7 linked regions of the Homo sapiens genome follow. The protein of the gene in region 1 interacts with the protein of each later gene in a biochemical or structural test. Each region holds a gene or a part of one and is shown in the gene's direction. Other genes may lie near its edges. The genes, in order: KIF17, HTRA1, PDZK1, RAPGEF6, PDZRN3, TJP2 and MAGI2.

What was found.
Region 2: the proteins of KIF17 (region 1) and HTRA1 interact in a test that uses a peptide from one of them, tested with the Homo sapiens proteins (one large-scale study listed by IntAct).
Region 3: the proteins of KIF17 (region 1) and PDZK1 interact in a test that uses a peptide from one of them, tested with the Homo sapiens proteins (one large-scale study listed by IntAct).
Region 4: the proteins of KIF17 (region 1) and RAPGEF6 interact in a test that uses a peptide from one of them, tested with the Homo sapiens proteins (one large-scale study listed by IntAct).
Region 5: the proteins of KIF17 (region 1) and PDZRN3 interact in a test that uses a peptide from one of them, tested with the Homo sapiens proteins (one large-scale study listed by IntAct).
Region 6: the proteins of KIF17 (region 1) and TJP2 interact in a test that uses a peptide from one of them, tested with the Homo sapiens proteins (one large-scale study listed by IntAct).
Region 7: the proteins of KIF17 (region 1) and MAGI2 interact in a test that uses a peptide from one of them, tested with the Homo sapiens proteins (one large-scale study listed by IntAct).

What each region holds. Positions count from the first base shown.
Region 1 is NC_000001.11:20,669,508-20,673,007, reverse strand, and holds part of KIF17 (kinesin-like protein KIF17), read left to right. Parts: intron 1-811; coding exon 812-1,070; intron 1,071-2,516; coding exon of another isoform or gene 2,517-2,519; coding exon 2,520-2,587; intron 2,588-3,500. UniProt on the Homo sapiens protein: Dendrite-specific motor protein which, in association with the Apba1-containing complex (LIN-10-LIN-2-LIN-7 complex), transports vesicles containing N-methyl-D-aspartate (NMDA) receptor subunit NR2B along microtubules.
Region 2 is NC_000010.11:122,485,553-122,489,052, forward strand, and holds part of HTRA1 (serine protease HTRA1 precursor), read left to right. Parts: intron 1-3,349; coding exon 3,350-3,449; intron 3,450-3,500. UniProt on the Homo sapiens protein: Serine protease with a variety of targets, including extracellular matrix proteins such as fibronectin. HTRA1-generated fibronectin fragments further induce synovial cells to up-regulate MMP1 and MMP3 production.
Region 3 is NC_000001.11:145,697,369-145,700,868, reverse strand, and holds part of PDZK1 (Na(+)/H(+) exchange regulatory cofactor NHE-RF3), read left to right. Parts: intron 1-3,500. UniProt on the Homo sapiens protein: A scaffold protein that connects plasma membrane proteins and regulatory components, regulating their surface expression in epithelial cells apical domains.
Region 4 is NC_000005.10:131,432,730-131,436,229, reverse strand, and holds part of RAPGEF6 (rap guanine nucleotide exchange factor 6), read left to right. Parts: coding exon of another isoform or gene 1-279; exon of another isoform or gene 280-469; intron 470-2,571; coding exon 2,572-2,800; intron 2,801-3,500. UniProt on the Homo sapiens protein: Guanine nucleotide exchange factor (GEF) for Rap1A, Rap2A and M-Ras GTPases. Does not interact with cAMP.
Region 5 is NC_000003.12:73,397,942-73,401,441, reverse strand, and holds part of PDZRN3 (E3 ubiquitin-protein ligase PDZRN3), read left to right. Parts: intron 1-432; coding exon 433-520; intron 521-3,500. UniProt on the Homo sapiens protein: E3 ubiquitin-protein ligase. Plays an important role in regulating the surface level of MUSK on myotubes. Mediates the ubiquitination of MUSK, promoting its endocytosis and lysosomal degradation. Might contribute to terminal myogenic differentiation.
Region 6 is NC_000009.12:69,236,777-69,240,276, forward strand, and holds part of TJP2 (tight junction protein 2), read left to right. Parts: intron 1-172; coding exon 173-360; intron 361-1,101; coding exon 1,102-1,197; intron 1,198-1,933; coding exon 1,934-2,013; intron 2,014-3,160; coding exon 3,161-3,371; intron 3,372-3,500. UniProt on the Homo sapiens protein: Plays a role in tight junctions and adherens junctions. Acts as a positive regulator of RANKL-induced osteoclast differentiation, potentially via mediating downstream transcriptional activity.
Region 7 is NC_000007.14:78,124,168-78,127,667, reverse strand, and holds part of MAGI2 (membrane-associated guanylate kinase, WW and PDZ domain-containing protein 2), read left to right. Parts: intron 1-251; coding exon 252-471; intron 472-1,830; coding exon 1,831-1,974; intron 1,975-3,500. UniProt on the Homo sapiens protein: Seems to act as a scaffold molecule at synaptic junctions by assembling neurotransmitter receptors and cell adhesion proteins. Plays a role in nerve growth factor (NGF)-induced recruitment of RAPGEF2 to late endosomes and neurite outgrowth.

The sequences.
Region 1 (3,500 bases):
AGTGATCCGCCCGCTTCGGCCTTCCAAAGTGCTGGGATTACAGGTGTGAGCCACCACGCCCTGCCTCAAACATCCTTCTTTACTAATCAGACTGTACCTGCTCTTTGAGGAAACAGACTGTGCACCAGGTAGTCTTGGGGCTCAGGGAGAGGGTGGTTATGGCTGGGGCTGGCAGTCACCTGTGCTCAGGAGGGACCGGGGGACCGGTCTGGCAGACTTGAGCAGGAGACCAAAAGAATCTGGAACCCTTGATCAGATCAAGGTGGGTCTTACTCTTAGGTCCATTGTTTAGGTCCAGTGTTTGTCACACCGTCACACAGGGCTGTGGCAGTGGGAGAGTGAGGATTGTCAAGTCGGAGAGTTTGTGCCTGTTGTCCTCCTTAGAGATGTCACTTGTGCAATTCTCTGATATCCTTTAGAACGGTGGTGTTGGATGTGGGGACTTCTCAAAGGCTCCTGAATAAAATGTACAATGGGAGATAGTGACTGAGGGGCTGGCTGTTGGGATTGCTGATCAACTTTTCCCCTACATTTTGCAGGGCTGGGGGGACACATTAGGTGCTCATTTAAATGCTGGGTGGAGAGACAGCAGGGTGATTGGATAGACGGAAGGATCAGTGGGTGTGAGAGGAGGTGGATGGATGGATGGAGGGAAGGATGGCTGGATGGATGGTGGGGATGAGAATGGATGGCTGATCAGGCCAATGAACAGACGATGCGTGGCTGCTGGCAGGACAGTGAGTGGACAGGGTGGTTAGATGGAAGGGGAGGTATCTTTCCCTGCTCACTGCTTGTCATCCTTTGCTTTCAGCTTCGGGCAGCAGAGGTGGAGATCAAAGATCTGCAGTCCGAGTTTCAGCTGGAGAAGATCGATTACTTGGCCACCATCCGCCGGCAGGAGCGTGACTCCATGCTCTTGCAGCAGCTCCTGGAGCAGGTGCAGCCCCTGATTCGCAGGGACTGTAACTACAGCAACCTGGAGAAGATTCTGCGTGAGTCCTGCTGGGACGAAGATAACGGCTTCTGGAAGATCCCACATCCCGTCATCACAAAAACCAGCCTCCCAGTAGGTCAGGAGCTTGGCTGGCCCTTGCCCTCCCCTCCCTCCTTCACGGCTTACCATCCTGCAGACTGGCAGGGAGTGTGGGCCTCTCCTTGCAGGCTGTGGGTGTAGAAGACACGTGACCCTGGGTACCTGATGCGTCAGGACTCTGAGAAAGTGGTGTGTTCTGGAGGCAGACAGATGTGGGTTGGAATTCTGGCAGCACCGTTCCCTGTGTGCCCTTTTTGGGACTCGGTGTCTTCATCTGTGAAATGGGGATGAATAACAGCACCTTTCTTAAAGTTGCTGTAAGGTTTGAAATGTGTTAATAGGCCAGGTATGGTGGCTCACGCCTGTAATCCCAGCACTTTGGGAGGCTAAGGCTGGCAGATTGCTTGAGTCCAGGAGTTCGAGACCAGCCTGGCCAACATGGTGAAACCCTGTCTCTAAAAAAAAAAAATAGAAAAATTAGCCAGGCATGGCAGCATGTACCTGTAGTCCCAGCTACTATGGGGGCTGAGGCGAGAGGATCGCTTGAGCCTGGGAAGTCAAGGCTGCAGTGAGCCAAGATCGTGCCACTGCACTCCAGCCTGGGTAACAAAGTGCGACCCTGTCTCAAAACAAACCCCGAAAAAACAAAAACCAGAAATGTGTTAATACACAGAAAACCCTTACAGCAGTGCCTGGCACATAGTGATGCTCGCTGCATGTCATTGTTATCCTAATCAGCATTGTCACTGGTTCATCCTTACGACAGCCCTGAGAAGACAGGTTTTCTACCCATTTCACATAGGAGGACACAATCTCAGAGGGTCCAAAGTCACAGTCACAGCAGTGAGTGGGAGGACCATGGATCAAAACCCACAGTTCAGAGTTTCAGGCCTGGTTCCACTTCCGCTCTTGCTGCTGACCTCCCGTATGGCCTTCCGAAGATCACTGTCCCTCTCTGGGCTTCTTTACAAAGAAGGGGTTGGATCAGATGACCTTGAAAGCCTCCTCACCTCTGATGAGTCTCAGAGTAAAGCCAGACATGCTGTGGCTCTTTCTCCAGCCGTGGACCTGACTCTGCCCATTTGGGGAGCCCGCAGTGCCCCCCAGGAGTCCTCCCTCTTGCTCAGCGTGTTCATCCAGGTCCAACATCTCTGATGTTTATTGACACCATCCCTGCTGAGACCCCAGCCCGCCTCCATTTCCCACATGCTCTGGGATGCAGCAGCCTTCCTGTCTGTCCCCACCCTCGCCTGCTGTCTTGCCTGGAAGCCCCTTGGCTGCTGTCTTGCCTGCAAGCAGATGAGGGTCTTCTCTGGTGCCTGAGCCCCTCCTGCTGTCTGTTTCTTAAAATTATCCCTTGGCTTGGGCTGGGAAGTGTCCTCCCCTGTTTAAGCCTGAGCCAGGCCTGACCCCCACCTCCACCTGTGCCCTCCTCTAGGCCTTGCACCAGGCAGCAGTGACTTCAGCTTTTGTTTTCTCATAGCAGTTTCAACTGGGCCACAGAACAAACCAGCCCGCAAAACCTCTGCAGCAGACAATGGCGAGCCGAACATGGTGAGGACCGCGGGAGAGGGAGTGGGGTGTCGGGGGCTGGGAGGGCTTTGCCCCCAGTGCTGTGGGTCAGTGTTACTGTGGAGAGCTGGTTTTCCACTTTCCTCCCGCCTAAGGATTAAAGAAGGGGCCAAGGCTGGATCCTTTTCATGCCCCTCCATTGGCACCTAGACCCTCAACCCCCTCTGGCCCTCATTCAAAGGTACTCACAGTCATAAATACCAAGGGAAAGTAGATGGTTCGGTGGCCCATCTTGCCGGTGAAGGACAGAGACTTCAGCCTCAAACTCAGAGGACAAGCAGCACATTCTGGTTTCCTGCTGGTAATCCTCAGACCAAGAGGGTCCTCACAGGGTTCATGAAGCAGTAATTGGGATTCCTAAGTCACTTTATTTTCCCGTCTCTCATATTCTGTCTTTTTTTTTTTTTTTCTTTTTCTAAGCTCAGTGGCAAGACCTATCTCCTATATTTTATAGTGCAACAGAAATGCATGTTCTTAAAGCATGGGTGGTGGTGGTTGTTTTTTTTTTTTTTTTTTTTTTTTTTTTTTTTTTTTTTTTGAGATGGAGTCTCGCTCTGTCACCAGGCCGGAGTGCAGTGGTGCGATCTTGGCTCACTGCAACCTCTGCCTCCCAGGTTCAAGCAATTCTCCTGCCTTGGCCTCAGCTGGGACTACAGGCGCGCACCACCATGCCCAGCTAATTTTTGTATTTTTAGTAGAGACAGAGTTTCACCGGGTTGGCCAGGATGGTCTCGATCTCTTGACCTTGTGATCCTCCTGCCTCAGCCTCCCAGAGTGCTGGGATTTCAGGCATGAGCCACCACGCCCGGCCTCTATTTTATTTTATTTTATTTTATTTATTATTATTATTATTATTATTATTATTTCGAGACAGAGTCTCGCTCTGTCGCCCATG
Region 2 (3,500 bases), on another chromosome or scaffold:
GGCTGCTCAGTGGACTGAGGCTGGAACTGGGCCTTCCAGTGGCCAGGCCAGATCCTCCTTGATCTCCCTTGTTGCTTTCCTGGTGGGAAGACCCTGGAACCACTTTATGTGACTGTGTGAGAAGGGAACTGCCTCTCATTTTACCCAGCAAAATCCACCTTCAATCCATCTTCATTTTTGCCCCTGGTGTGGGCAAATTCTCCCATACCTAATTCAGGAAGCCAGAAAGAGGAAGTGAGTTAATGATCCTTAGTGGGAAGGCGCTGGTAATGGTCCTTCTTGTGAGAGTTTCTGAAACACCACGCTGTCTCTGTGTTCTGGCCTGGCTGGAGTTAAACCTCTTCTTGGCCTTTCCCCAGGAAGCTGGTCTGAGGAAGCCCAGATGCGTTTGTTTACAGCTGTCTGGTGACATTCGCCAGGCTCTGTTTTCAGAAGGAACATTTCCATTCCCTTATTTACACCTCCCATTGGAGTGCTCGGGGGGACACACCAATTATTTGCAACTACCTGGAAACCTAGGAGGGTAGCAGATCTGTAGGAGGCCAGTGTTGAAGTGAGAAGCTGTAGATCTGGTGACACTGTGGGCTTGGGAGGGCTTGCCCAGATCTGTTACTTATACTCTCTATTAAGAAACTTCAGTGTCCATGGAGAAGTTATTTAAAGTCTGCGAGCCTCAGTTTCCCCATATATAATATGGGAAGGATACCTGATTTTCCTATTCCACATGAAGGTAGAAAAAATTAAATTAAGGCAGCCAATGAAAGGGTTTTGAAAGCAAAAATAATAATATGATACTGTTCTGAATTTGTTAAATTATTCTTCCAAGTAGTTGCAGATCTTTTTCTGTACCTTAGAAAAAAACCATGCTATGTAAAAGGAGATGATTCCAATCTTTAAATAAAGCAACTCAGAGGTCAGGGGCTAGGACAGAAAACGGCCCTTTGTTCACAGAAGCGCTCTCACTTCCAAGAAAGCAAGCGTGGGAGAGGCAGGTGGTCCTCCCGATGTCCCTGTGCCCCATGGTGTCAAGCTGGGTTACTATGGCCCTTCGTGACCCAGTGCAGCAGGGATGTGGGAACCAGTGGGTGTGAAGCTGTGACGGGTCACAAGAGGGCTGGGACGTCTCACAGCTTTTACTTATAGCCTAGAGCCTGGGGAAGGGTTGCCACTCTAGTGATGAGAGAGGCGTGTGTGTGTGTGTGTGTATGCGTCTGTATGTATGTGTGCATTTGCATGTATATATGTGTGACTGTATGTATGTGCACATCTGTGAGTATATGAATGTGTGTGGAAGTGTGTATAGGTGTTTATGTGACAGTTTGTGTGTAAATGTGGGTGTATGTGTGGGTGTGTTTATGCATGTACATCTGTGGGTGTGTATGCATAGTGTGTATGTGTGAGTTTGTGTGTGTGTGTGCATTTGCATCTCTGTGTATATATGCATGTGTGTTAGGGGCAGGCACACAGGCCTGTTGGTAAATGAGACACAAAATACCTACAAAATACAAAATGTGAGACAGGAAATACAAGCCCCAGTTACTCATTTTTCAGTGCAACAGACATAAGATTACCATGTGAAATTGCTATGAAAGTTTCCGAAAGCTTCCTGTCAATTCGTAGTGAGCAGCTAGCAGAGGAGTGCGGGTCCCTGGAGCCTGCTTGTGCAACGCTGAGCTAGTCCAAGGGGGAAGAATGGGGTGCATGGCTCTCAGCTGCAGACCAGCCTGGAACCTCTCCAGCCTGCTTTAGCAGAGACTTGTTAAGAGGTAGCAGCAGGTGGCAAGATTAGGAGCCGGAGTAGTAGGCTAAGGCTGCACTTCCAGGGACACACTGCCTCTGCCACCACCCGTGCCACGAAAATGGGAGCCCAGGACCCTGAATCTCTAGCAGTCCGTTTCTGAATCAGTTACCTTGGGTATGTGCCTCTGGTTGATGGAAACTAACTTGTAGCCCTGCTGGGTGAGAGCCTCACATCGGGACATGTGACAGCTTTGTTGAAAGTAGCTTTGGAAACGCCCACCACGTGGGGCCACTCACTGTAATATAAACGGTCATGCATCACTGAGCAACAGGGATACGTTCTGAGAAATGCGTCGTTAGGCGATTTCATCACTGTGGGAATGTTACAGAGTGTGCCTACGCAAACCTAGATGGCAGAGCCCACTCCACACCTAGGCCAGATGGCAGAGCCTGTTGTTTCTAGGATGCACGCCCGTACAGTAGGTTACTGTACTGAATACTGTAGGCAGTTGTAACAATGGTGAGTATTTGTGTATTCAAACATAGAAAAGGTATAGTAAAAACAATGGTGTTATGGTCCGCGGCTGGCTGAAACGTTATGTGGTGCATGACTGTAGGTATAAAGCATTACAGTTGTTTGATTTTTCTCTTTTTCTCACCCACAGTCTTAAGGCACCTCTTATGCCTTTTGTCTGGGATGTCCCGGGCAGGGTTGGAACGTGTGGTTAAGGCATGGCGGAAACTGCTTTGGGGACAGACGATGGCCTCAGCTTGCCTTGGGGTGTCAGTGGGAAAGATAGGAGCTGCCCCTTTGCCTTCGTGTTTCTTCGTAATAATCTCAGATGTACCCGTCTGGTGGGCCTCTCCTAGAAAAAGCCCCGGTGCTCTTTGCTCCTGCGGTGTTTCTCAGGAGGGTTGTTGCTTCTTTGTAATGGTGGGGACTCAGGGAAGGGACGCAGGCAGAGGGTGATGCCACATCAAAAAGGGACCCTTGGCTGGGTGTGGTGGCTTACGCCTGTAATCCTAGCACTTTGGGAGGCCGAGGCAGGTGGATCACCTGAGGTCAGGAGTTCGAGACCAGCCTGGCCAACGTGGTGAAACCCGGTCCCTAGTAAAAATACAAAAATACAAAGGTGGTGGGTGCCTGTAATCCCAGTTACTCAGTAGGCTGAGGCAGAAGAATCGCTTGAACCGGAGAGGTGGAGGTTGTGATGAGCCAAGATTGCGCCATTGCACTCCAGCCTGGGTGACAGAGTGCGACTCCATCTAAAAATAAACTGAAAAAAAACAAAAAACAAACTTGGGCCATCAGCTTCTTGGAAAGGCTGGTGTGAGGTTGAAGCATTTGCTGGTGCCTCTGCTCAACGTTTTTGTGGTGAACCTGAGCAAAGAGGTTATCATTAGTGGATTTTACTGCCTTACCTGGGTGGGCACTCCCTTGGGAGGTGGATGGACATTTGCAGCTGAGCCCAGGTGGGGGAATTGCGCTCACTCCGCCTTCAGAATTCCAAAGGCTGGGCATGCATCTTGGCTTCCTCTAACCCATGTCTTTCTCTAGGTGGCCACAGCAGAGTGTCATTAAGTATCTATTCTTTGCTTTTGTTCTCAGGGCAGGAAGATCCCAACAGTTTGCGCCATAAATATAACTTTATCGCGGACGTGGTGGAGAAGATCGCCCCTGCCGTGGTTCATATCGAATTGTTTCGCAAGTAAAGAGAGCCTTCCTTTTTCCTATAACCTCCGAAGCTTTCACCGCCACT
Region 3 (3,500 bases), about 130 Mb from region 1:
GTGCCTTGTGGGGAGAGGCTCTGTTGTCTTCGTGGTGTGATACTGACGGCATAATTGATTCCTAGTTACTATTAGATAAGGTGATGGTGGGTTCAGGTGTAGATGACTATATTTATGGAATAATCCTGCCACTTCTAAGTCCCAGACCTTGGAAGATGAGCAGAGATGACAGTACCTGGGCTGTTTCTTTCCTGATGGTATTTCATTGCATCTGGCCATCGCTGGTGACAGCCCCCTTCTGTCTTTCTCCCTCCAAGCAGAATGCTGTTTATCCCATGCCCTCTCTCTGATCTTTTGGCATTTCAGTGATGCTGTCTGGTGAGTGAGCCTATTCACTAGCTACTCCTTGGCTATGAAGGTCCCTCTCTGGGCCAGGTATCTATAGCTAAGGTAATGCTTCACTCACTCCATCTTCTCCACTGCTGTCTGTTCCTTGGGTCCCTATGTTCACTTCTGTTAGAGCTTATCCACTCCAGGCGGTGGAACTCTCTGGCCAGCTTAGTCTTGAAATTCTGTTAAAGCTCCCTGGACTCTTTTACCTCCTTGATACACAGCATTTGGTTCTATTTTGTAATTCCCTGGCTTTTAGACTTACAGGATACTTTTGAGTCCAGAGTTTATTATTTGAGCTTTCTTTCATGGGGAACAAAATCTCCAGCCCTGACTTTTCAGCAGCTAAAATTAGCTTCGCAGAAGTGATCTGGACTGAGTAGATAGAGAATCCCTTGCCTGATCATTGAGGTGCCTGCCCATTCTTAGTCTGTAATTTCTTCCTGTCTTCTGCAAAAAGAAAATCAGGAAAAATTTCAAATATTCTCACAGAAAATGGGATTCCCATTGCATCAGGCGTTTCATCAGAGGACAGGAAAGAGTAACTTGGATGGAGTGGACTTCTATGCTCCAGAAACTGTGCTGAGAGGCCTTGCATGCTCTACTGTGAGCCATCTTCACGGCATCCACATGTGCTTCCTATTCTAGGGGTATTCTATCTTCAGCTCAAAATTAAGGAACTCACCCATGTTCTTACAGTTAACAAGCGGTGAAGCCAGGATTAAAAACTAGGTTTGGCTCTAAAACCCTTGCTCTTTCTACTCTACCTTACTCAGAATCGATCCTGGGGGAAGATGGAAACAAAAATACAGATTCCCTTTTGTATACACATCTGGCTCCTTTAGAATTGCATCATGGGGAACTATTCTGCTCTAAAGATCTTTTCAGATAACTTTTCCTGTGTCAACCCACTAACTTTTGAAACTGCTTCCACAGTCCCTTCTTCTTTCTTCCCAACTCATGCTGCTAAGCTAGTCCCTGAAACATTTCATCTTCCCAATCCCAAACTCCTAGCTCCTCTTATCTGCCAATTCATGTTGGCCCCACAGTCTGACATTCCAGCTCTGTGCCCCTTGTAAATCTAGAAATCCTCACATCCTACTCTTATGGGCTTGTTAGTTTGAGATGGAGTCTTGCTGTGTCACTGAGGCTGGAGTGAGTGGTACAATCTTGGCTCACTGCAACCTCCACCTCCCGGGTTCAAGCGATTCCTGTGCCTCAGCCTCCTGAGTAGCTGGGATTACAGGCACGCACAACCACGCCCAGCTAATTTTTAAATTTATTTTATTTTTTTTTAAATTTGAGATGGAGTTTCACTCGTTGCCCAGGCTGGAGTGTAATGGCGTGATCTCAGCTCACTGCAACCTTTGCCTCCTGGGTTCAAGTGATTCTCCTGCCTCAGACTCCTGAGTAGCTGGGATTACAGATGCCCACCACCAAGCCTGGCTAATTTTTGTATTTTTAGTAGAGACAGGGTTTCGCCAAGTTGGCCACGCTGGTCTCAAACTCCTGACCTCAGGTGATCCGCCTGCCTCGGCCTCCAAAAGTGCTGGGATTACAGGCATGAACCACTGTACCTGGCCTTTATTTTTTATTTTTTGAGGCAGACTCTCGTTCTGTCGCCCAGGCTGGAGTGCAGTGGTGCAATCTTGGCTTACTGCAGCCTCCGCCTCCCGCCTCCCGGGTTCAAGCAATTCTCCTGTCTCAGCCTCCGGAGTATATGGGGTTATAGGTGCCTGCCACCACACCTGGCTAATGTTTTTTGTGTTTTTAGGAGAGATGAGGTTTCACCATGTTGGCCAAGCTGGTCTCGAACTCCTGACCTCAAGTAATTCACCCGTCTCGGCCTCCCAAAGTGCTGGGATTATAGGTGTGAGCCACTGCGCCTGGCCTACCCTTATGTTTTAAAAATATGTTAGCCCCAACTTAGGGTAAAAGTTACCACTTTCCTTTTCTATTCTTGATGTATATTACTGTAAGAAAAATCCATGGGAACCCATGCTGCTGCAAGTTTATTATATATATATATTTTAACCTAAGTTGTTTCTTAGACATTTTAATTCAATTCATTGACTCTTTGTAGTGAGCTAATGCTGTGGCCATTAGTTCACTGTCTTAGTTCACCGCCAGCTCGGGGGCTCCATTCTCTTTTGGTTTACATAGAATTTCTTTTAAGTTTGAAATAGCTGTCAGTTTTTTTAAATGGGGACATTTTATGTAAATCTAGATTTCCAGAGTCTCTTGAAAATTGAAAGGTGGCATGCTGGCCTCCTCTTCCTCAGGCAGTTGTCTTCTCATGAAAAGCAGCAGCTTTTCCTCCGTCCCCTCTCGGCCACCTTCGCTGATTTACCTGTTTGACCCTAGAGATTATTTTTCTGTGGTACTTTTGCTCCATATTCTCCAAGTTCCTGATTTTTGTCAGCTACTTCGTAGGAGAGATTGAGGCTGAGGTAAGTGACCTTGTTTTCTTCTTTATCATATTTTTTTCTACTTCTCTTCTGCCCCTGGAGAAGAGGTATTTCCTCTCACCAAGGCTAACCCCAGTTTCCATGTTCTCCATATCATCTCTTGATACAGAAACATGCTGATCGTTTCCTTAATGTTAAAAATAAAAACATCCAGGCTGGGTGCAGTGGCTCATGCCTGTAATCCCAGCACTTTGGGAGGCTGAGGCGGGCGGACCACAAGGTCAGGAGTTTGAGACCAGCCTGACCAACATGGTGAAATCCTGTCTCTACTAAAAAAAAAAAAAAAAAAAAAAAAAAAAAAAAAAAATTAGCTGGGCATGGTGGCGGGTGCCTGAAATCCCAACTACTCAGGAGGCTGAGCAGGAGACTTGCTTGAATCTGGGAGGCAGAGGTTGCAGTGAGCTGAGATCGCACCACTGCACTCCAGCCTGGGTGACAGAGCGAGACTGTCTCAAAAAATAAAATATCAATATTCGTTGCTTCTGTTACTTGGTATCCACTTGCTTCTTAGTGTTTTATCAGGCCCAGACTTCCATTTTCTGAATGTCAGTGGCATTTTCTGTTTTCATTCTCTCTACCTCTTAGCATTATTTGGCATTGTTAACTATCCCATCTTAAAATTCTTCTTTTAGTTTTGATGACACTAAAATTTTGGCATTTTGTTTTCTGATTATTCCTTTTTGCTTCCTCTTTCTTTTCTCT
Region 4 (3,500 bases), on another chromosome or scaffold:
GACAGGACAAGTTGTGAGAACACAACCAGAAAAAGAATGACATCCCCGTTTAGAAGACTTAGGGAAAGAATGCTTTCAAGGGAGAGACTAGTCAACAGCCAAAAAGAGGACACAGATCACAATCAAGCTACAGAAAGCTGTGAGAAAGTGAAGGATGTTGGAAGCAACATCAAAGATGAGAAAGGGAGTGCCATCTTCAATTCAAATAGCCAAGGCAACAGTAACACTTTAAACTGCTTCTATACGCGATTCAAGTCTAAAAGGAGGAAGACACTCTGATGAAGTTCCTTATTTAATTTTAGTGTTAAGTTTGTTTTCAGTTATTAATGTATACATGGCTTAAATTAAACCATTTGTCAAAGCTTAGGCAGACAACTTAGTAAAATACTATTTATAAACACTTGAAAATGCCTCATTTGTACATAAGTTATTTTACTGATGTATTGAGTTAGTAAATTTTATACTCTTGTTTTCTGTAGTTGACTTTATTTCCTACTGTTAGCTGGATCTGTGAGTGAAATATGTAGAGGAGGCTTTTTTATCTTCTACTTTTTACGTATCTTTGATTGGGGGAGAAGGGACTAGTCTAACATAGCAATATCAGAATCATCTGGGAAACTTGTTAAAAAATGCAATTACTGTGTCCCACCCCAGACTTCATAAACTTGAATTGCCAGAAATGGGATCTGGAATGTTTATTTTAATTGGCTTGCCAGGTGGTTCTTAGTATTATTATATTTGAGAAATACTGATCAAATAGACATAAGAATGAAATTATTTTTTAAACAATGAAGCAAGATTATTGTGTAGAGCAATGACTTTTTCTTTTCAAGAAGAAGGTTTTTATTTATTTTTAATTTACTTATTACATCCACTTTCTTGGTCCTCTTAAAAATTGACTAATCAGCTCATGGACATTGACAAATAGCAGTGATCCCAAGTTCAGAGATGTATGATAGACGTCAGAAGACTGGCTTGTCTTGGCTTACCCTGTTCCTGTCCACGTAGGCCAAATATAAATCACACATTTTCTAGGCCTTTTTCTCTTTGAAATAGTTAACGAAACGACTTAATAAGATTACTGTGCAACAAATTATTCCTTAAATGACTTGAGTTATATGTGAATAACTCCAAGATCCATAAACAGAGAAAGACTTGGAACTAAGGATGTTGTCATCCTCTTTCTGCATGAAGATGAGGCCCTGAGAATTCCAGTAACATACCCAAAGCCTGTAATTCTTCCTAATGACATTTCTAGGTATTGGTCCAAAGGTCACATATCTACTAAACCCTACTTTCCTCTGTGAGCAAGAAGATATTTTTTACTTCTTTGAGACCCGTCCCTTGTTGGGATTACTAGGGCATTTTCTTTTTCTTTTATTTCTAAACAAAAATTTGGTTTCTTCCAGTTATCAAAATAGATTATTATGTACATTAGCCATTCTGTTGCAGATTTGTTTTTGGGTCCTTCACCTCAGTGCGTCCCTAGAATACAGAAGAACATCTCTCTAGTTGTCTGCTGTGCAGTAAGTCACAGAACAACATAGAACATGTAGATGCTGTTTTTTTCTATAACACATTATTAAACATGTATCCACTCAGCTGTTTAATATTCTGCAAGGTTGGTGAAGAAAAAGGAAACTAAGTATGACACTAAGTTTAAACCTAAAACAATTTAAAAAACTGAAACAGGCTGGGCATGGTGGCTCATACCTGTAATCCCAGCAATTTGGTAGGCTGAGGCGGGAGGATCGCTTGAGGCCAGGAGTTGAAGACCAGCCTCGGCAACATAATGAGACCTCATTTCTGCAAAAAGTTTAAAAATAACTGGGTGTGGTGGTGCAGACCGTAGTCCCAGCTACTTGGGGCTGAGGCAAGAGGACCACTTGAGCCCAGGAGTTCGAAGCTGCAGTGAGCTATGATCGTGCCATTGCACTATAGCCTGGCAACAGAGCAGGACCCTGTGTCTAAAAAATAAAAATAATCTAAAACAGTGACTCTCAACTCAAGACAAGACTTCTTAGGTGGGATATGCAGAATATATGGGGTAAGTATATATAGTTTGATAAAGCAAAAATGTAGTTCTTTCCCTTGAGTCCTGGACTCCCACCCCTACCCTTACTTCAAGATGGTATTTGGGATTCAGATCAGGTCAAGAAATATTCATATTAATCAAAGGAAGGAGCGTTGGGTTAAAAAGAAGTTGAGAAACCCTAAAGACATGTACTTATTAATATTTGTAATCTTCTTATTTTATTAAATGATTATAGCTGTGGGAGAGCCTGAGAAAGATATACCTTTAAACTAGTTTTCTGAGTAACACTGGACTTTGACTGTCTTTTTCTTGAATGTGTAGTTGTATTGGTGTGGTGTGGATAGTAGGCAAATGGTTATGTAGGGGAATGTGTGGAGAAAATTGGCACCATTATATCTACATAGATGGAAACTAAAATTGCTTCTACTTTGTCTTCTGTTATTTTTGTGGGGTTTTTTTTTTTCATCCTTTCCCCTACTACCCCCACCATATGTTCCCTTTTTTTGTAGTTTGATCAGTGCTCTTTTCTTGTTCAGGTTACACACTTATTCCATCAGCTAAATCTGACAACTTGTCTGACTCCAGCCATAGTGAGATTTCTTCACGGTCCAGCATCGTGAGCAATTGTTCTGTTGACTCCATGTCTGCAGCTCTACAGGATGAACGGTGTTCCTCTCAGGCCCTGGCAGTCCCTGAATCCACTGGGGCATTGGAAAAGACAGAGCACGCTTCAGGGATAGGAGATCATAGTCAACATGGCCCTGGGTAAGCATCATTGTCTGTGTTCATAACACAAAACCCAAGCCAAGTGGCCACTGCAAGGAGTGCTCCCCACCTTGACCTTGGACCTCCCATGGGGTAATTGCAGAGTTATCCATAAAAGAATATGTGGGCCAAGCACATATTCTCTATTCTGAATATGTAAATAAGCACTATGTTGAAAGATGTATGGGTGTTCATTTTTAAAGTGTTACTAAATTCAAGTAACTTTTTATCATTATGTATCTTTCCAGTCAGAACTCAAAGTGCATCTGCTACTTATATAGGGGAGATAATTTTTGAAATTCTGGCTATAGGTTAATCAAAAAGGTTGTGTTTTGGAAAGTGCCTCGAGTGCTGTGCACATTGTAGACAGGTTGGGAGAGTAGGACTAGCCCTTGATCTCTGTCCTCTGAAAGTGTAATTTGGGGAGTAAGAATAATCACCTAGCAAAGGTTAATTAAAAAAAAAAATCAACTCTAAATTTCTATTTAGAATCAAGCAACGTGGAAATCTTTGAGAAAGTTTATTCTAACTGATAAATATTGTGAAATCTGGTCTACTTTAATATGAAAAATTTAAGATAAATTATTACCACATTTATAAAGATTTCTAAACTAGGATCTCTACACCAGAGGTCAGCAAATGTTTTCTATAAAAGTTACATAGTAAACATTTTAGACTTCACAGGCCATAAGGCCTCTGT
Region 5 (3,500 bases), on another chromosome or scaffold:
GATCTCAGAGGCCAGCACATATCTTAGACTGTTGCCTGGGCTCGAGCCTAGTTCTCTGCAGAGATAAAATCTAACAATGAAGCAATAAGCAGTAAAATATTGTCCTGTTTCCTGCGTAGAGATGGAGTTAGAAATCAGTCACGCTGAATCACGTGACTGGCAGGCTCCGGGATGGGCTCTGCAAACAACAAAGCCCATCAGGCTTGCACTTTGCATCTTAAGTCCTTCAGGAGGAAATGTACTAAAGGCAAATGGTAAAATTAGGATGATGGAGGTCCTGACCGTGCTGAGAGCCCCATCCAGAGGGAAGTGAGTCATGAAAGGGCCCACACCCTGGGAATTGCTACTGTGCCACTGGCCTGACAATGGGTGTAAGAAAAACAGATACTGACAACGGAAGAAGGGCTGTAAAGATGTTGCATCTCTTTTCAGGCATCCCTCAGCCCATGAATACTACGATCCAAATGACTACATTGGAGACATCCATCAGGAGATGGACAGGGAGGAGCTGGAGCTGGAGGTATGAAGAACATCCTTGTCTCATTTTAGGAGTCATTATTAAGAACACAGAATGCCTAATAAGTTCTCTATAAGCATAAATTAGTTTACGGATGCCGATGGAAAGTAACAAAAGCAGAACCACTTTTACTGATGCCCTTTGAAAGGCACAACTGAGATTCTTCTTCCTTCCTTGGAAACAGAGCTTAATAATCAAGTCCCAAAAGCAGAAATGTAAACTTTTTTTAATTTGAATCACTTAAAAGTTAGGACAGTAAATCCTGTTGTCAACCTTTGAATCCACATAATCCATACATTCTTGTAACTAACATAAGCCTCCTCACCTTCCTCCCTTTTATGTCATCACCACTCTTTACTCAAAGGCAGATGGCTCAAGAGTAGGTGGATAAATTACTTGAGTGAATGCTAGCCCGCCCTAACAAAAGGGTTTGTTCACTGCTTCACTTGCTTCAAGTTTGCTAACATTGATACAGAAGAAATTAAACAAGTCTGCAACTCTTCTTAAGTGTTATTTGAGGCCACACAGGAATAAAGATTCAAGATGCTACATAATGTCAAATAGGTCTCTGTTAAGGTTTAAAATATTTAGAGGACACCAGGTTGCCAACAGAGTTCTACTTCCCATTTTCCTTTTATTAAGGGTGATAGAAAATACAGAAAACACTAACTTGTATAATATATTTATATTTTGGGGAAAACACTTTTATATTTCAATGGGGTTTCAAAAAATATAACAGCATTTTTGAAAGCTGATTTTATGGAATAAGGTAAAAAGACACCTGATGTTGACAGGTAAGCCCTTGGGTACCATCAAAAGGTCACCCAGGAAAAATCGAACATTTTATCCAATTTCATGGCTAACTGTTGTGTAATCTATGCTGTCCTACCAATACTTCTGAAGTTGAATTGTTCAGTGGCAGTAGGTTCTGTGCAAGGACAGAAGCAGTCAAATAGTAGAAAACAGCTATGTTCCTCAACTTAAAGTTACCAAGAGTTCTCATTCCAAGACAGAAGTTAAAAATCAATAATTGTGTGCAAACGATGACTTCACTGATGGTTAGCCAGATACAGTCAAATCAAAGGACTTGTTGCCAGTGGCATGACTGACTCTGTGCCAGTTTTCAGAAATTTAAAATTTTCCCTAAATGCACCTGGTCTAAACAGCAATGGCCAGTATTCTCACTATAAAAACTTGACTGTTTCTGCTTGCTGTCAGCCACTTACCAAAGCGCTTGCCATTTAACAATTGTTCCAGAAAATGTAGTTTTGTCATTTTCAAAAATCAGGATTCTGCCTCTTATTTAGTGTCCTATCACCCCAGCTTCAGGGCTGTTTGGTGAAGCAGCCGTGACTCCTTCAGGACACTTGTTCCTTAATTTGTTATGTATGTTCCTTCCAAAGGGGGTTCATAATGAAATACATTTGGGAAATGCCAGACTGAAGACAACGAAACAGATTTCTTGGAGGACTTCTGAGAATCTTGACTATCTACCTAGAATCCCCTGGGGGAGTGGGCAGAATTTCCCCCACCTCTCTGGCCAAGTACCTGTTTATATTTCCTCAGTCTACAGTTCTCTGGAACACTGTTGGAGAAACACTGCTCTCCAAACAGAGGGCTATTTCGTAATCTTTATGGGACGACACTGCTTTTTGATGATGTAATTGTGGCAAAGTAGAGTTCTTTTAAAAAGCTGTAAAGTGTTTCAGAAGCTAGAGTTATGAAGTAGTAGAGACTTTGTAGTCTTTGGTATTTAGTTAAACTTGACTTTGTAGCAGTGGGTTCTTTAGTTCTTTTTTTAGTTTCTAATACCTTTGAGAATCTGATGGAACCTACAGCCCCCCGCTCTGGAAAAATGCTCCTGTCTGTGAGAGCTTGCATATGGTTTCAGGAGATTCACTGAGCCCCCACAGTATCTGCCCAATTTGGGCCATTCTGCCTTACAGTTTTTCCTTATACCTGACTATCACCAGAACTCTTACGTGCTTTCTATTTCTCTTTAATTCGACTCAACTTATTTAAACTACGGTAATTTTATTTTAAAGGAAACACTATACCACTGCGTCAAGCAGAAAGTCAGCATCCATTGCCTTAAATAGAAAATCCCATACAATTAAATACAGTGGACACAAGCCAGTGTTATTTATTAAATCCTGGTGCTCAATAAGGGTGCCTGCTGAGGGTTGGGAGCCTGGGGCCACTACATCCTGCCTTTTCTCTAAGGAGATTAGCTAGTATTAAAGAAGTGTTAAGACTAGCCCAGACTGAGTCTTTCTCCTCAAAGCATGAAGCACCTGAGAGCATCCTGCTTTCAGCAGGAGGGAGCCACTCAGAAACTGTTCCCTAGAACCCTGTTGTTCAAAGTGTGGTAGGAGGACCAGCAGCCTGGCTGGTCAAAGTAGAGTTCTCACCTAGGAGATGTGGGAACTACAGAAACTTGGCCCCCTAGATCTTCAGAATCAGAATCTGCACTTTAACAAGGTTCCTAGGTACCTCGGTGCCCATTAAAGCCAGAGGACCCCTGACCTACAGGCCACAGACCCAGATAAAGCAGCCCAAGCTATCATTTCCTCTTGTTCTCTTGAGTCACACCAGCGAGGCTTTTGTGGTGCCTTTCATTCACTGCAGTGTCGAGATGTGCCGCCAAGTCACGAATATTGTCCACACTGTCCCTGCAGTGTAACATTATCAGGGCCTAGGAACGACTGAGCCCCTCGTAGGCATGTGACACTGTGTTCCTAAGACTGCTTCTCTCTTTTCATGAATAAAAGCAGACACAACGCAGGTGTTTAGAAAACTAGTCTGGTATTAATATTTTAAGCTAGACCTTGGATGCCATCAGACTTTATATTCGTGTTTATTTTCAATTCTGTTCATTTTATTGTCTCTTACATTAAATATACTGTTTGGCCCTAGAAATGCAAAATCACGAAGTCACCACTCTGCCTGCCCTTAAGGAGCTCACAAGCCATTAGGACCATTA
Region 6 (3,500 bases), on another chromosome or scaffold:
TGCTCCCATTTGGAAGTGAAGGTCCCCACATTTCCCACCCTCTGAAACTTCTTCATTGTCAAGCGGAATCTTCTCTGAGCTCAGAAGTAAAATTGACTGGATTTGATTAATGAAATGCATGTTAGCTGCGTTTTCTGGCTTTAGAGATTTACTTCCCGTGGTTTCTTCTCAGAGCTGAACAAATGGCCAGTGTTCAAAATGCCCAGAGAGACAACGCTGGGGACCGGGCAGATTTCTGGAGAATGCGTGGCCAGAGGTCTGGGGTGAAGAAGAACCTGAGGAAAAGTCGGGAAGACCTCACAGCTGTTGTGTCTGTCAGCACCAAGTTCCCAGCTTATGAGAGGGTTTTGCTGCGAGAAGGTGAGGAAGTCACATGGGGCCTGGAAATGAACTGACTGGGCTCTGAGCCTGTTCACCTTTATTTTCAGACTGTATGGTCAAGTTCTAACTTATGTATGTCAGTTATGCCAAAGGCAGTTTATAGAGTTGAAATCAAATTCTAACAAGGAGCATGATTTATAAAAAGCTGTTTCAGTTCCTAAATTGAGGCTTATTTCTGCAACTTAAAAAATGTTTTAATACCACTGTTCAAGAGTTTCGGTATATTGGCTGGGCACTGTACCTTATGCCTATAATCGTAGCACTTTGGGAGGCCAAGGTGGGAGGATCACTTGAGCTCAGAAGTTCAAGACTAGCCTGGGCAATATAGTAAGACCTCATCTCTGCAAAAAATAAAAAAAGTTTCCATATATTATCAATGGGAAAGTTTGTGTTTAAAAATGGTGAGGAGCTAGGCAGTGTAGTCCCAGCTACTCAGGAGGCTTGAGCCTAGGAGTTTGAGTTTAGTCTGGGCAACATAGTGAGATCTTGTCTCTTAAAAAAAAATCTAGGTTAGCATGTGGTTGAATGAAAAGAAAAAAATTGTTTTAAATGGTGAGGATAGTGAAGGCATATTCTTCAGAACAGAGCCAAGCTGAATTGGGGAGAAACCACAGTTTCTTTCGTTTAGTTATGTTATCAAAAGCCCATACAATACTTTTACTGCTTATCATAACAGCTAGGCAAGTGTGTATGCTTTAATGGCCTTTCTTGTCATTTCAGCTGGTTTCAAGAGACCTGTGGTCTTATTCGGCCCCATAGCTGATATAGCAATGGAAAAATTGGCTAATGAGTTACCTGACTGGTTTCAAACTGCTAGTAAGTCTGTCAGTGTTTTTTTTTCCCCCAAATTTTTATTTTGAAAAATTTCTAACAGAGGAGTTGGAAGAATCATGAACACCCACGTACCCTTCACCTGGAATCACCAGTTGCTGACATTTTGTCACGCATTTTCTCTCACCCACTGCCTGCACCATAGACACACATACACACACACATACACATACTCTTTGAAAAATTTCTGCAGAATCATTTATAACACTTTATCCCTGAATACTTGTGTGAATCTCCTAAGAACAAGGACTTTCTCCCACATAACTGCAATACCATTATCACAGCCAAGAAAGGTAACATTGATGTGGTGTGATTTTGTATATAGTCCATTTTCCACGTTTTCTTAATTGTCCTAGTTATGTGCTTCATAGCTTTTTTTTAAATTCAGAATACAACCAAGGACCATTCATGACATTTGATTTTTATGTCTTTTTGTGATTTTTATGTCTTTCCAGTCCCCTCTTTTTTCTAAATAACTTTGTTACACTGATATTTTGAAGAATCCAAGCTAGTTGTCTCCTAGAATGCTTCCTGTTGGACTGGCCTAACCGTTTCTTCATGATTAGATTTCCACTAAGCAGGTTATGTGGGTCCTTCCCACTGAATCTTGTTAGGAGACACTTAATGTCAGGTGTGCCATCATTGCTTGATGCTAGGTGGGAGTATTTGGTTGTCACTGTTTTCTAAACAATTATTTAGCTTCCTGTTTTTGCTTTTGCAGAAACGGAACCAAAAGATGCAGGATCTGAGAAATCCACTGGAGTGGTCCGGTTAAATACCGTGAGGCAAATTATTGAACAGGTGAGAAAATTCATCCACAGACCGTGTTTTCAGAAAGAATTAGATTATGGTTTGCTGCAGTCACTTTTAGGATAGTATCTGTACTTTTAATCATTAAATGTTAATAATAAAAAATTGGCCGGGCACAGTGGCTTACACCTGTAATCCCAACACTTTGAGAGGCTGAGGCGGGTGGATCACCTGAGGTCAGGAGTTCGAGACCAGCCTGGCCAACATGGTGAAACCCTGTCTCTACTAAAAATATAAAAAATTAGCCGGGCACAGTGGCAGGTACCTGTAGTCCCAGCCACTCAGGAGGCTGAGGCAGGAGAATCGCTTGAACTCAGGAGGCGGAGTTTGCAGTGAGCGGAGATTGCACCATTGCACTCCAGCCTGGGCGACGAGTGAAACTCCATCTCAAAAAAATATATATATAATGTAAATGCAAACCGTTTCACTGTGTGGAAACCAGTCACTGTTGGCAGTGAGCGGAGATTGCACCATTGCACTCCAGCCTGGGCGACAAGAGTGAAACTCCATCTCAAAAAAATATATATATAATGTAAATGCAAACCATTTCACTGTGTGGAAACCAGTCACTGTTACTGTTCTCTGGCAGTAACATACTGTTTTTTTTTCCAGAGTTCCCAGCATTATACCAAATAATGTGTTAATTCATTTTATCAGAAGTTCTAACACATTGGTAATATTGAAGTGGGCATTAGGTAGAAGGAAATGTGTTCTGCTTCTTGATTTAAATTTACAAGATAGGTGGCTCATGCCTGTAATCCCAGCACTTTGGGAGGCAGAGGCGGGCGGATCACCTGAAGTCAGGAGTTTGGGACCAGCCTGGCCAACATGGTGAAACCCTGTCTCTACTAAAAATACAAAAATTAGCTGGCCATGGTGGTGGCGGGCACCTGTAATCCCAGCTACTCAGGAGGCTGAGACAGGATAATTGCTTGAACCCGGGAGGCGGAGGTCGCAGTGAGCCAAGTTTGTGCCACTGCACTCCAGCCTGGGCAACAGAGCAAGAATCTATCCCAAATAAGTAAACAAACAAACAAACAAGATATATCTCATACAGCCTTTACTTATTAAAACAAAGTATTTGATGCTATATTACTTTATATATCCATTTCTCTAACTTTTCCCCTTTTGTAAACAGGATAAGCATGCACTACTGGATGTGACTCCGAAAGCTGTGGACCTGTTGAATTACACCCAGTGGTTCCCAATTGTGATTTTTTTCAACCCAGACTCCAGACAAGGTGTCAAAACCATGAGACAAAGGTTAAATCCAACGTCCAACAAAAGTTCTCGAAAGTTATTTGATCAAGCCAACAAGCTTAAAAAAACGTGTGCACACCTTTTTACAGGTAAGTGAAATGTAAATGTAGTCCCTTTGCTAAAAAATGAGAAATAAAGAATTGAAGAGTAGAAGAAATAATTAATTAATCTGAATGGAGAATTTGAAATTGTGTTCATGACTCCTTGAAAAATAGTTA
Region 7 (3,500 bases), on another chromosome or scaffold:
AAGGTTCTGGTTGAACCATCATTTTTACCTTGACTTCGTAAGGAGCCAAATAAAAAGCATACAATATGGCATTTGTCAGAGATTTTTAAATAATATTTAACCTTCTCATAATCCTGAGCATCCAACAGGACCACCGAGAGGAGTGGTTTGTGTGAGCTGTCATGGCTGGCCCACCTCTGGAGGCCGTGTGATCACTCTAGCCTCTTTAGAATGCAGAGTTACAAAAGCAAATCCCATTTCCATTGATTTAGTTACAGGTCGGAAGTGAAAGCAAGGCAAGATGTGAAACCAGACATCCGACAGCCTCCATTCACAGACTACAGGCAGCCCCCGCTGGATTACAGGCAACCCCCAGGAGGGGACTACCAGCAGCCCCCACCCTTGGACTACAGGCAGCCTCCCCTACTGGACTACAGGCAGCACTCCCCCGACACCAGGCAGTACCCTCTGTCGGACTACAGACAACCCCAGGTACCTCCTCCCGGAGAGCAGGGTGGGTCCTGACCAAGGCTTCCAGAGAACTGCAAGGAATGAAATAGGAGAGGCAGAGGAAAGAGTACCTGTCTGGGATGGAGAGCTGAAGTTCTATTCCTAGTTCTGGTAACATCGGGGTAACACCTGCATCCTCAGAAACATGCTGGATAAATAAATCTATTTCAGAATAAAGCAGGACAATAAATAAATATGGATAAATACATAAATAAATAGCGGATGAGTAGTAATGGAATAAACTAATCCCTGCTAATACTAGCTAACTCCTTGTACGTTTCCTTGTCAAAGTTTTAAAAATGCTCTAACCTGGGACCTCTGAGAGTGCTGCTAATGCAGAAAATTTTATAGATGCTAGCAGTGGAGGTATTTTAGGTCCATATTTTTTTACGTGGCCCCCTACCTGCCACTCTGTGATAAAGGGCCAAGCCCCTGTGCGTAAGAATAAGACCAGGCTTGGCTTCACAATCCAGAGTGTAGCGCCTGCCACAGCCAACAACTCTCTGTCTACACAACCAGTGTCACTGTTGTTATGATTATTTGTTGATGTGCTTCATGTCAACTTCCTTAACTTCTCTGAGATTCAGTTTCCTAAAGGGAGAGTCTTCCTTACAGGCCAGGATGAGGATTCAACATTTATGAAAAGAGTCTAGACCAGAGTTTGGTATCTAGAAAATATTTCCTACTTCGTAACTACATACCAAGATATAAATTAAGTACAATCTCAACTCTATCAGATTACATTGTGTTTTATTATGAATTGAAGATCAACTTTATGCCCAAAGATTTTAAGAATAGTGAAGATCAGAGAATCTTGGACATACTGCATTTTAGGTAAAAGAGAAATTGATTTTGTACATTCCAACTTGATATTCAATAGTCTGTGCAACTGAGAGATCTAATTATCAGATCCCACTAAATTTTACTTTTCTAATCAGCAAACTCTGTAATTTGTACACACACACACACACACACACACACACACCTGACATTTATTTATGGTGCTCAATAGCAGTGAATGAGAGAAGTAAAAGGAGAGATGATGTCACTCAGGCCTATCTGTAATCATTCCACGTTTGCCAAGTAAACTGATGAATACCAAAGTAAACAAGCTACACAGTAATTCTTTGATGACCAAGTAAACTGTGCTCTGGCCTGCTCAAACCTTTGGAATTTTGTCTTTCATTTGGGTAGTTTATGAAGCCAGATTACGACTTCTCCCAACATCATGTCATTTGGAATACATTAACTAAGAGACAGAAGGAGAACACAGAGACTAGCCACAGAAGCTTCTCTGATAACTAAATAATTATTTATTCCATTTTCTCCCCAACCCCAAAGGATTTTGATTATTTCACTGTGGACATGGAGAAAGGAGCCAAAGGATTTGGATTCAGCATTCGTGGAGGAAGGGAATACAAAATGGATTTGTATGTGTTGAGACTGGCAGAAGATGGACCAGCAATAAGGAATGGGAGGATGAGGGTAAGAACAGTCTCTTTTTATAGAATTGCTTAATTCTGAAAGAAAAACCGACTGTGGTATTGGAAGAGTACTGAAGCATGCTGTCAAGCGGGGTTGCTGTAGGTTTGCCCTCTTTCTAGTTGATGATGACCCAGTTTCTTAAAAGTCTGGCCACTTGCTATTTTATAATATCTCTCATTCTCATTTTTCTGCTTATGACCTTCTAATTGATTAACCTCAGTAAAGTACTATTTTTCTAAAGAGCAAATGAAAGAAATCTAAGAAATAGCTTGAAAAGGAAACATTATTTCTCCATAATTCTTTCTATGGTTTGATGATTCTGTTTTGATTAAGGTTGAATCTTTTGAAATTTATTTTTAGTTTTGTGCTTTTTCCCCCATATTGATTAATCACATGGTTTTGCGGGACTTTTAGGAAATTTTTCCTTTGTGTTGACTGGTCTTTTGGTTTGATACTGGGCAGACAGAAGCATTAGGAGTAAAAGGGATTTGGCTTCTTGGATACAGGTTGTTCTTAAAAATGACAGCAGGGGCCGGGCGTGGTGGCTCACACCGGTAATCCTAGCACTTTGGGAGGCTGAGGCGGGAGGATCACAAGGTCAAGAGATGGAGAACAACCTGGCTAACACTGTGAAACCCCATCTCTACTAAAAATACAAAAAAATTAGCCAGGCGTGGTGGCGGGCGCCTGTAGTCCTAGCTACTCAGGAGGCTGAGGCAGGAGAATCGCTTGAGCCCAGGGAGGCGGAGGTTGCAGTGAGCCAAGATCGTGCCACTGCACTCCAGCCTGGGCAACAGAGTGAGAATCTGTCTCAAGAAAAAAAAAAAAAAAAGACAGCAGCTAGAAATTTTCCAATTAAAGTTAAGAGTAGATTTTTTCATTTAATAATTACTTTGAGGCATCTGATTGATGGGTAACTGATTCTTCATTTAAGGGTATAAAACAAAGCTTGTTAACAATATAAAATATTAGTCTCTTTACTCTCTCTGTGTGTTTGTGTGTGTGTGTGTGTCGGTGTATGAATAAAATCTAGAATTTATTCTTGCCCTCCCTCCTGCCTCTTTAAGTTAATAAAGAAAAGCTGTGGCTTTGGGGTTCCGGAACCTCAGGTTCTTGTGCAGAGCCTCACCAACCAATTTTCCCTGATGGCTGAATCTGTTATTTCTACCACCAAGTCTGCATTTCTATGATACGCATTTCCAAGTCAGAGGATTATCCACAGTCCAAAAGCAGAAGGCATGCACATCATGTCTTTGTTTCTCCCCACTACCACAATCCTTTGACAGCTGGGAAGCATCCAAGTTGGAATTTAAACCCAGGCAGGGCTGACACCAGAGACTGGCAGCCCTCCCCGTGATCTAGCACCAGCCTCCTCTTACCCCGTCTAGCCCTGATTTGAAGATGGGCCTCCACATGGTTTCCTGGCTCTACAGCTTCCCTATAAGCCAGAAGGACACTTTCTTAACCTGCTATAAGGCCAGCTCACAAGCAGTTAAGTAAAACAAAATTAATCTTTCCAGTGCAGG